Linked DNA regions of Homo sapiens: region 1 is linked to region 2. Evidence: fine-mapped expression QTL. Tissue or cell type: testis. Region 2 holds a variant in brackets; the other region holds the start of a gene. All regions are shown on one strand. Distances are between the middles of the regions.

The links. PIP is the estimated chance that this variant, and not a neighbour inherited with it, causes the effect.
Region 1: it holds the start of LINC02220, and the variant in region 2 is the best candidate, but not a certain one, in a credible set for the expression of LINC02220 in testis (GTEx, PIP 0.57).

The regions. Positions count from the first base shown.
Region 1 is chr5:13,029,790-13,035,188 of GRCh38, forward strand. LINC02220 (long intergenic non-protein coding RNA 2220) reads right to left here and starts at 3,097. Exons shown (of 5, transcript NR_147005.1): 1 at 2,997-3,097; 2 at 2,222-2,286.
Region 2 is chr5:12,876,368-12,881,766 of GRCh38, forward strand. It overlaps LINC02220 (long intergenic non-protein coding RNA 2220), which reads right to left. Exons shown (of 5, transcript NR_147005.1): 5 at 1,105-1,208. Among named protein-coding and RNA genes, the nearest start is that of LINC02220, 150 kb to the right of the region's middle. The variant C/T (reference allele first, on the strand shown) is at 3,289.

The DNA of each region.
Region 1 (5,399 bases), 150 kb after region 2:
AGTGCATTTTTTCTATTTGATCATTCTTCTACTTAATACACCATTTTTTTGCTCAAAAGCATGTTACTAAAAATAAAAACAGATCACCCCTCTGACGATGCAAATGGATCTGATGTAATTAATCTATATATCTAATCGCTATATGTCAACACTCACTGACTACCTACCAATCACTTTAAATTGAATAATTTGGACAATCGAAGAATGGTTGCTGCTCTTATGTAATCAATGTACAATATACAGATCAATTCAAGGTAAGACAGAACATATATTTTGCTTTCCAAGTCATAGTAGAAAAGACATGTAAGTGAGTTTTAACATGAGTATGTGTAAGAAGAACTTGAAGCAGATAATCTTAGAGCTCTGCTTGTCATCCTTTGGCCAACTGCAGTGATGGTGGCCCACCTGCAGCTCAATGGGGGACCATTCTATACGAGATCAGGCTCCCACTACAAGAATTCTATTTCAAACACAACATATGACTCTATATTTTGCTGCCTTTGGGACCTCACCAAGACTGCAAAATCTTTGTCACAATTCTCAACCCCACTCACATTAGACACTCAAAAATTAATATACACAAGTGTCTTACTATTCTGACATTGTGAAGAAAACTGCAGTTGATCCCATTTACATATCATTTTATTTGAAATATTTTATGGCAATTATTTCTTATCACATGAAACATATTTACTTTCTGAACTTTCTTTTTAAACCAATTTCAAAATGTATAAGTTTGGCTCAGTCACAAGTTGAACCCCAAATATGTTGCTATCTGTATCTTATTTTCTTAGTGGGAGGAATAAAGACAGTATTGAAGTGAAAGCGATTTTGTAGTCAAGGACATAGTCTCTGAAAGAGACCCTTCAGGAGATACGAGGTTGCTGGCAAAACTGGTGTTCAGCACTGGAGATACTCAGCATGGGCAACAAGTTATCAGGAAGCAGCCACTCTTAGGGATAAAGACAGGAAGTAAAAGTGATAACAAGAATAATAGAGAAGTAGTCAGAATAGTAGAATTAAAGATGACTGAAGCCATCTAACATACCTCATAATTTTGTCAAAGCAGTTTTGGAACAGGAAGAGGTACAGCAGTAAGAAAATGCATAAATGATTCATGGTGCGTATTCCGATTGTAAATAAGTGTTGCACTTAAAGCTAGATGCCTTCTCATTTTTAAAAGTATAAAATGCTATGTCTTAAATAATAAAGAAGAGAATTACCAAGCTGAGAAATAAAAAATGCCACATCTGGGGCAGGAGTTAATATAAGACCAGCACATGAAAAAGTTTGGATAAAATAGTTATTTGTGTATTATGAAACATCCAGACTTCAATGGAATCTTCTGCACTTGCAACCTCTTTGAAAGGTGGCTTATGCATGCCCATGGCTTATGCATGCTCAGGGGAGCTGGTAATACTCACTCCAAGCTGCAATTGCACTTCTGTAAAACATAGACCTGTTTTAAACTGTGATCTTTCTCCAAAATTTAATTTCTCCACATTATATACCCACTATTTAATCAATGTCTTCCATATTTAAGCATAAACATAATTTGAGAAACACACATGCAAAAAGCTTTAAAACAATTTTTCAAAGTTCCAAAGATTGCTTAAAAAAAGAACATTGTAATAGGAAAAGGGGCTCTTTAGAACAAAAACAATCTAGACTTTCTGACAAAAATTAAGTATGTTTTTGTCTAATTTCCTAGCCTACCTGAGTAAACCCAGAGAAGCTTTCACATAAATTCATGAAGCATCATGCACTAAGATATTCACCATGATATCATTGAGGGTAACGGGGAGCTGGTTACAGCCTAGATTTTCCTAAGAGGATATGTAAAAGAATTATAGTTAATGCATACTGTGAAATGCGTGATGCAGTTAGAAAAAAATAAATTTTAAGGTAATAGAGTAACATTGATAAATGTAGTAAACATTTTTTGTAAAGAGATACGTTTTTAAAAACAGCATTAAACAAGACAGAAAACATTGATTCAGTTTATAAAATCCAAAAAAAAAAAACTTGAACACGTGCATTTTCACATATAGACACACAAGGACATATATCAAACATGTTGAACAGATTGCATATTGGAAGAGGCAAAAGAGTAGGTATTGAGAGGAAGGAGAGAAACAGTACAGCTACATAAGGTCTTGCTTGGGAGACGGAATACTTTGGGAATAGAGAGGACTCTGAGTAATTAATGAGTTAAACTCACTCAGATTGTTTTTTTCAGGTATCAGGTGTGTCCACAAAAACTATGAATGCCAGAGGAAATACTTTCTGAAAGAGAGTCATGGAAGAGAGAAAGTGTTAAAGAGTTTATAGAATTCATGGGATGGTTTTAGGTCATTGTAACATAAAAATTCTGAGATTAAATGATAGCACTTTTTTTAGTTATGTGTAAATAAAAGATGCAGAAGCATATGAACAAGGTTCAGCTGTTAGTGATTACAAAAAAGGAAAATAAATGTGTAAGAAAATGTATCATTGTGAGCAGGGATTTTTCTATATTTTATTTTAAAATTTTGTGTGAATTGCATGTTTACAAATTTATGATTTTATGTTTCATGTCGCATTTGCCCTATTTTCAAAAATTCAATATTTGGCATCCTGCTTATGTAATTATATAACTCTTTATTACTTCCATGTTATGAAATATGATAACATGTTTATAACTTGTCAAACACAGCCAAAGCTCTTCCCCCTTCCTGAACTAGAGGGAAAGATTATGTCTATATTCTCAGAAAATGAACTGCCATGGGTATTCAAAGTGATCAACCCCACCACCTGCACCACAAAAGAATTTGAACAATTACTTTTATAACCTAGCAGTTGCTAATTTCAAATTAGGTTTCACAGAGGAGATTTTTTTAATGAACCATAATTTGATTGCCTGTGATACACACAAATGACTATTTAGTGTATAATGCTAGAATTGTAGGGCCCATACACACCATACCCATACACACACATACACCACACCCACTCACATGAAACTATGCTCTTAGCTTAGACTTTGGTTGCTCTCCTCTTTTCCATTGGGTGCATTCCTCTCTTCTAGTGAGGATAAGACTCCAAATCCATGCAGCTCTTAAAAGAAGGATCATGAATTTCTGATGTCCCAAAACTCCAAGAGAATAAGAATCATACAGGATTCTAGAACACTGCTAGGCAGGAAAAGTGAGAACAGTAATGGCAAAAGTCTGACACTGAAGGCTCCCATGAGAACTCCAGGCGTGGAGGAGTAGGATCTGTGGTGTAAAATCTACCCTCTTTGGTTACACCGTAAGTTGAGTCCATAAGAATTGTGGGGAAATGGGTGCACCCCTCTTGTATACCAGCTTAGAAGAGTTAGGTTGAAAATAAAAGCACTCTTCTCATATCTTATTTCAATTTTCTTAGTTTAGAGTATAAGAATGCAACAAAGCATCGAGTTATTCATAAAATACTGTATTTGGTGTATTAGTAGTTAATAGTTACTATTAATTTTTGTTTGTTTGTTTTTGAGATAGTTTTGCTCTTGTTTCCCAGGCTAGAGTGCAATGGAATGATCTTGGTTCACTGCAACCTCCACCTCCCAGGTTCAAGTGATTCTCTTGCCTCACCCTCCCCAGTAGCTGGGATTACAGGCTTGTGCAACCACACCTGGCTAATTTTGTATTTTGAGTAGAGACAGGGTTTCTCCATGTTGATCAGGCTGGTCTTGAACTCCTGACCTCAGGTGATCCACCCTCCTCGGCCTCCCAATGTGCTGGGATTACAGGCATGAGCCACCACGCCCGGCCTAATTTTATCATGAATACTATTAGTAATAATATACCGTATAATAAAGTTACAGTTTTATATTAATATTATATTTGTATAATGGTTTTTAGTTATTGATACTATATATTACATTATAACATAGTCATGATTTTTTTTTTCTTATCAGGATTAAGGGACTAGAAGAAAATCATCCAAGAAACATAATTCTTGTATTTCTTTCTTCCTAGAGATGTCAATTATCTATCTGGATAAAAATACAGCATGTCACATTTTGCAAAGCAGACATTGGACTTAAATGGAAAATGTGTGGCACCTGTATTCTTATTTCAATCTCTTTATCTCTTTATTTGCATCTGATGTGTCAAATTATCAAGGAACTCTTTAGACAAAGAATAGGACAAGCAAATTAAATAAGTTCTCATAAGCCTTCATCTTTTATAAATTGCCATAAAGCATAAAGATAAGATTCAAGAAAGGCTGCTATTTAAAAGTTCCTGTTTGTAGAATAGCTTCTCTGATCTTGCCATTGTTCCTTTACATTTTTGTCTCTTCAAATTCTGGCAGGTATGCAATATCTCATACAGCAGCTTTTGAGAACAGAACTTGAATAATAAAACTTAGCAATCTGATACTTATGAAAACAGAAGAAAGGTTTATTTTTCTAACTCCAGATATAGTCAAAATTTAGTCAGTCATTGTTAGTGGTATAAGACAAAAAGTAAACACTGCGAGTGTGACTCACGGGTTAGTCTATGTAATTCTACTTAATATGATTGTGAAAAAGTATTAAAATATAGCAATCAGCAATATAATTGATGTAGTAATATAAGTGCAAGAAAAAATAATAAAAAAGTCATCTGGCAGAAAATATATATTTTTCTTTCTGTCTAAATCAAAATTTAAAAATCACCAATGCTTTATAACATTTCTTTTTTATTAGAAATTACTTTAAAGACATAGTCCAAATAAATAATTGCTTAAAGATAATTTACGTTAAAGACAGATCAATATTAATTTCAGTAGGATTTATAACCGTTATGTTGGTATAAGCTTTAATTATACATATTATTGAATATTTTATTGCCCTCAACAAATCTCAATAAAAATCTGGGCAAAAGCAAGAATCTATATTTTAATTCAATGAAAAATAAGAATTACAATTTTAAGTGTTTATTTCAGCTAAAAAAAAGTACGTAGACTTCAAAAAAAAAATACAGCTCTTTTTATTTATAGATAGCATGATTGTCTACTTAAGTCCCCCAGGGAAAAAATGACTGAAAATAGTAAGGAAGGATAACAAAAAAATTACAATGGCATTAAAGAAGGTGAAACACTTAGGTATGAATCTAACAGAAATGGAAGGTGTTTATATGCAAAAAACTACAAAACTTTGATGAATAAAAGAGAAGATCTAATTAAATGAAATATTTTGTTTTCATGGATTATCAGACTTGATATTATGGTATAAATTGTGCATAACTCAACCTATAAATCCAGGAAGCTAGTTTCTAGCTATTGACAAATGAATTCTAAAGTGTGTATTAAAAGGCAAAAGACCTAGAACAGCCAACACAGTGTTGAAGTAAAAACACAAAGTTGGAGGACTTACACTATCCAACTTGAAGACT
Region 2 (5,399 bases):
GAACTCCTGGGCTAAAGTGATCTGCTTGCCTCAGCTTCCCAAAGTGTAGGATTTACAGATACTAGCCACTGTGCCATGTTTATTCACAAAGAAAAATATTGAATAAGAAAATCCATGGAATACCCAGTTTCAAGATTCTCATGCAAATTTAACCAGTAAGCAAGCTAGAAAACACTAAACAACATCAATTTCTCCTTGTGATAGGGACAGGGGGAAGAAAATTTTTTTTCTAGGCAAAAAAGAGTGGGTCTCCAATGAAACTCCACCCTCAAGCTGAAGAGCCTAAAACCACTGCCCAAATTGAGAACTTATATTCCTGTCTTCTCACTCAAATGTTGCCTTTTTCTAAACCACCCATGACCATACCCCACCACATCCTGTGCCTATAAAAACCCCAGATTCAGCCAGTAGATGGGACTACAGCTGGATGCCAGAGATAAACAGCTTGATTTCAGAGGGACAGCTTAATGGCATAACTTCTGAGAAGAATCCAGCTGGAGATGACCAGACATCAGGGGAAGAATACCTTCCCACCTCATCCCCTTTTCAGCTTCCCTTCCCACTGAGAACCACTTTCAGCAGCAATAAAATCCCCCACATTTACCATCCTTCAACTTATTAATATGACTTCATTTTTCCTGGATGCCAGACAAGAGCTCAGGAGTCACAAATGCAGATACAAAAGGCTGTCACTCTGGTCCTTTGCCCTCATTGGCAGAGGGCAGCTGCATCACACAAAAAGGCAAAGGGCACACTGAGCTGTTAACACTTAAGCCATCAGTGGATGGCAGAGCTAAAAGAGCACTGTAACGCACCCTTTGGGGCATTGGGCATCACAGGCACCCTGACCTGGATGCTACCATAGGGCCTACATGGAGTTTGCTCCTGCCAGCACCCAAAACAGGCCAGTGGGATCCCCTACTTGTGCTCCCTCCCACAAGGGATTTGAGCATGGCAAGCTGAGTAAACTGAGTTTGTTCCTGCCAGCACCGAAAAGCACTCGCTCTGGTTCCTACACCTACTCACCTGCGTGGTCCCTCCTGGAAGGGGTGGAAGGCATCAGGTAAGAGTGAGTGGGGTTTGATCCCCCTGGCACCGAAGCAGCTGGCAGGTTCCAGTGGTCATTCACTCCAGTTCCTGCACTTGTTTGCTTACATGCTCCCTCCCACAAGGAGTTTACACTGTCACGCTGAGTAAATGAGGCAACCCTGTAGTGAGTCCCAAGAAGGGGTCAGGGAAATATCCTACTTCACAAGCATGGTAAACATATAATTTTAGATAACTAAAAACAAAGGTAGAACTTATTAATTATTTGAAATATTGCTCATATATTATTGTGCTAATTACATTTAGCAAACTTAGAGGTGTCTATAATACTTATAAATTATATATAATATACCCACCTTTAATTAGTATTGGTAAAATATTAAGAAAATATTTACTTGAAAAAGGTATAGTATATGAGTATACTTATAATTTTTATGTTCACATATTTTTGTAGTGAAAATAGAATTATTTTTAATATAGACTTTTTTTCTCATTAACATATCCATCTAATTTGGAGATATTTAAAATACAGAAAAATGCAAAGATAAGATGAGAGACACCCACAAACTATACTATATTTACCTTTAAAATTGTTATTTATTTTATGGAAAACAATGAGAAGCATATTTGAGCATTTCCAAATATCTGCAACCAAATATCTTTCTCTTCTGGAGAAAACATTATTGAGAAATTTTGGAGTAGTTTCTCTAAGTCTGTTTTTCTTTTGCTGTTGTTTGATAATACACCTATATTTAATCATAAATAATTTCAAGTGCTATAATATTTGTTTTAAAAGTATGTTTGTTTTAAAATTTGAAATGTTTATACATTTTAAAATAAACATCATAGCACTTGAAACTTATTTGTGACTAGACATAGGTGTACTTTTCACTGTTTCTCAACAACATACATTCTTAATCAACCTGCTATCAGCAATCAACATTATGTTTTCAAAATCATTAATGCCACTCGCTTGATATTTTTCTTTGATGCATGAAAGTTAATTTTGATAAAGTCCAATTTATTATTTCTTTAGTTACTTTTACTTGTGGCATTATACTCAAAGAAACATCGCCAATTCTAAGGTCATGAAATGGATCCCTGTGTTTTATTTTAATAGTTCTCTAGTTTTAACTCACATTTAGGTCTTTATCTACTTTGAGTTTATTTTTGTACTTGGTTTAATGTATGGATCCAATTTCATTCTTTTGCATATCCAGTTGTTTCAACTGGATTCATAAACTTCAGTCTGTCAACTGACAGATTTATAAACTCATGTATCTTTGATAAATTGACTTTTAATGAGGATGACAAGACCATTCAATAGGAAAAGAACACATGAACGAATGATGCTGATGCAACTGGATAACCAAAAACAAGTAAAAGCTATACAATTAAAAAGGAAATAGCAGAACTATCTCCATTCATAGTTTTCATAATTTTAAAAACACAACATTCCCATGAATACACACAAACACACACACACATACACACAATCTTCGAGTTAACATAGTCAGCACAGGTACAATATACAAGATAAATACACAAAATGTGGATATCCAGTTGTCTCAGCATCATGTGTTAATGTGTTCTTTTCCTAGTGAATGGTCTTGGCACCCTTATTACAAATCAACTGACCACAGATGCATACATTTATTTCTCGACTCGCAATTATATTTCACTGATAAATATGCCTATCCTTGTGCCAGTTCCACTGTTTGAATTACTTGAGATTTGTAGAAGGTTTGGAAATTGAAAAGTGTTCATCCTCCAAATGTGTTCTTTTTCAAAATCATTTTGGCTACTCAGGGTACCTTGCAATCTCATATGAATTGTAGAATTGACTTTACCGTTTCTGAAAACAAAAACCATTGGGATTTTGACAGGGTTTGCACTGAATATGTAGATCACTTTGGGGAGTATTTTCATCTTAATATTAATTATTTATATTAATAAATGCAAGATATTTTTCATTATGTAGGTTCTTAATTTATTTCAACAGTGGTTTTTAGTTGTCAGCATACACATCTTTCTCCTTCATTTTATATATATATATATACACACACATATATGTAAAAGCTTAATAATATATATAATGAAGAAGGTGAAAGACGTGTATAATAACATTAAATTATATATACGCATTCTGATGTTATTGTAAATGAAAATTTTTTGTTTCTTTTTTAGGTTATTTGTTGCTAGTCTATAGCAATACTGTTGATTTTGTGTATTTACATTGTA[C/T]ACTGTAAATGTGCTGAATGTATTAACTCTAAGGTTTTTGTGTGTATGTATGTTTGTGCATTCTTTGGAATATTATATAATTATACAACAGTGAATAGAGTTAATTATACTACTTTCTTTTAATTGTATATCTTTTATTTGTATTTTTCTTTAATTGTTCTGGCTTGAATATCAAGTAAATGTTGAATAGAAGTGGTTAAAGTGGATATCCTCATCTTGTTCCTGCTCTGAGGATGAAAGCTTTCATCATTGAGTAGACTAGAGTGTTTATTTTTTTAATAAGTGCCCTGTATTATGTTGAGGAAATTTCCTCTATTTCTAGTTTTTGAGTCTTTCGATTACAAAAGAGGTTTAATTTTCTTCTAATAATCTTACTCCATAAATTGAGATGTACATATTTTTGTTGTTGTTTTTATTATTTTATTTTGGTGTCTTGCCCTTAGTGTTTTTGTATTTTTTAAATGTTAAACAACTCTTGCATTCCTAGAATAAATCCCACTTGGTCATAGTGAATTGCCCTTTTAATATGCTGCTAAATTCTGTTTGCTGCTATTTGCCAATAATTTTCGTGTCAATTGTTATAAAGGATATTGGCCTATAGTATTCATTTGTTATGATGTCAGTCTCTATCTTCGGTACTAGCATAATGCTGATCTCATAGAATGATTTAGAAAGTGTTTCACCTTCTGATTACTAGAAGGGTTTGTAAAAGATTGGCATTAGTTTTCTTTAAATATTTGATAGAATTCACTGTTGAAACCATCTGGTTGTGAGATTTTCTTACTTGAAGTTTTTTTTAAATGACACATTCAATCTCTATTTGTTAAATGTCTATTCAGATTTTGTATTTCTTCTTGAGTCAGTTTTGTAATCTGTGTTTCTAGGAATTTGTCAATTTCTTCATGGATATCTAATTTGTAGTGTATAATTTTCATAGTTTTTTCTTATAATTTTTTTTTAAGGTTTGACATAATATTGTTACTTTCATGTCTGAGTTTAGTGATTAAGTCTTGTTCCACTTTCTTGATCAGTATAGCTAAATTTTTGCAATTTTATTGACTTTTTTCAAAGAACCAACTTTTGGTTTTATTATTCTACTTTTTGATTGTACTTTTGAAATTTGTATTATAATCTCTATATTCCTTTTTTCTTATTAAATATATAACTAAATTAGGAAGAAGAGACAAATATCCCATGCATAAGAATTCCAAACAGCTTATGTAGATATCCTTATCTGAATAAGGAGGAAGAAAATATTCCACTCTTTAAGCATGGGCTTTGACAGTAGCTCTCTTCCAAAGAGTACAGTATGAAAAGGTAGAGGAGAGAGTAACTTTATGTTGGAGAAACTTGGTAAATTCAACTTCAAATCAAGGTCAACATCAATAGTCTGTACCCTTGATATGTTTCAATAAAAATGACATGAACTATAGAGTTTAGTTAATGCTAATGCACCAATATTGGTTCATTCATCATAACAAATGCACCATAGTCATATAAGATAGTAATAATAGGGGGAACTGAGTGAGAGAGTATATAGGACATTTTTATACTACCATTTCAACTTTTCCCTAACTGTAAAAGTGTTTTAAAAATAAAATCTATTTTTATTTATTTTTTATTGTTGTATATATTCATTTTATTTTATTTTATTTTTAACTTTTAAGTTCAGGGGTACAAGTACAGGTTTGTTGCAAAGATAAACTTTTGTTATAGGGGTTTGCTGTATAGATTACTTCATCACCCAGATCTTAAGCCTAGTACCCATTAGTTATTCTTCCTGATCCTCTCCCTCCTCCCACCCTCCACCCTCCAAAAGGCCACAGCGTGTATTTTTAACGTCTATGTGTTTATGTGTTCTCTTCATTTAGCTAGCACTTAGAACTGAGAACATGCGGTATTTGGATTTTTGTTCCTGCATTGGTTTGCTAAGGATAATTTCCTCCAGCTCCCTCTATGTCCCTGTAAAGGGCATGATCTTGTTCTTTTTTATGACTTCATAGTATCCATGTTGTATAGAACCACACATACCATTTAACCCAACAATCCTATTACTGAGTATATGTCCAAATGAATATCAATCATTCTATTATAAAGACACATGCACACAT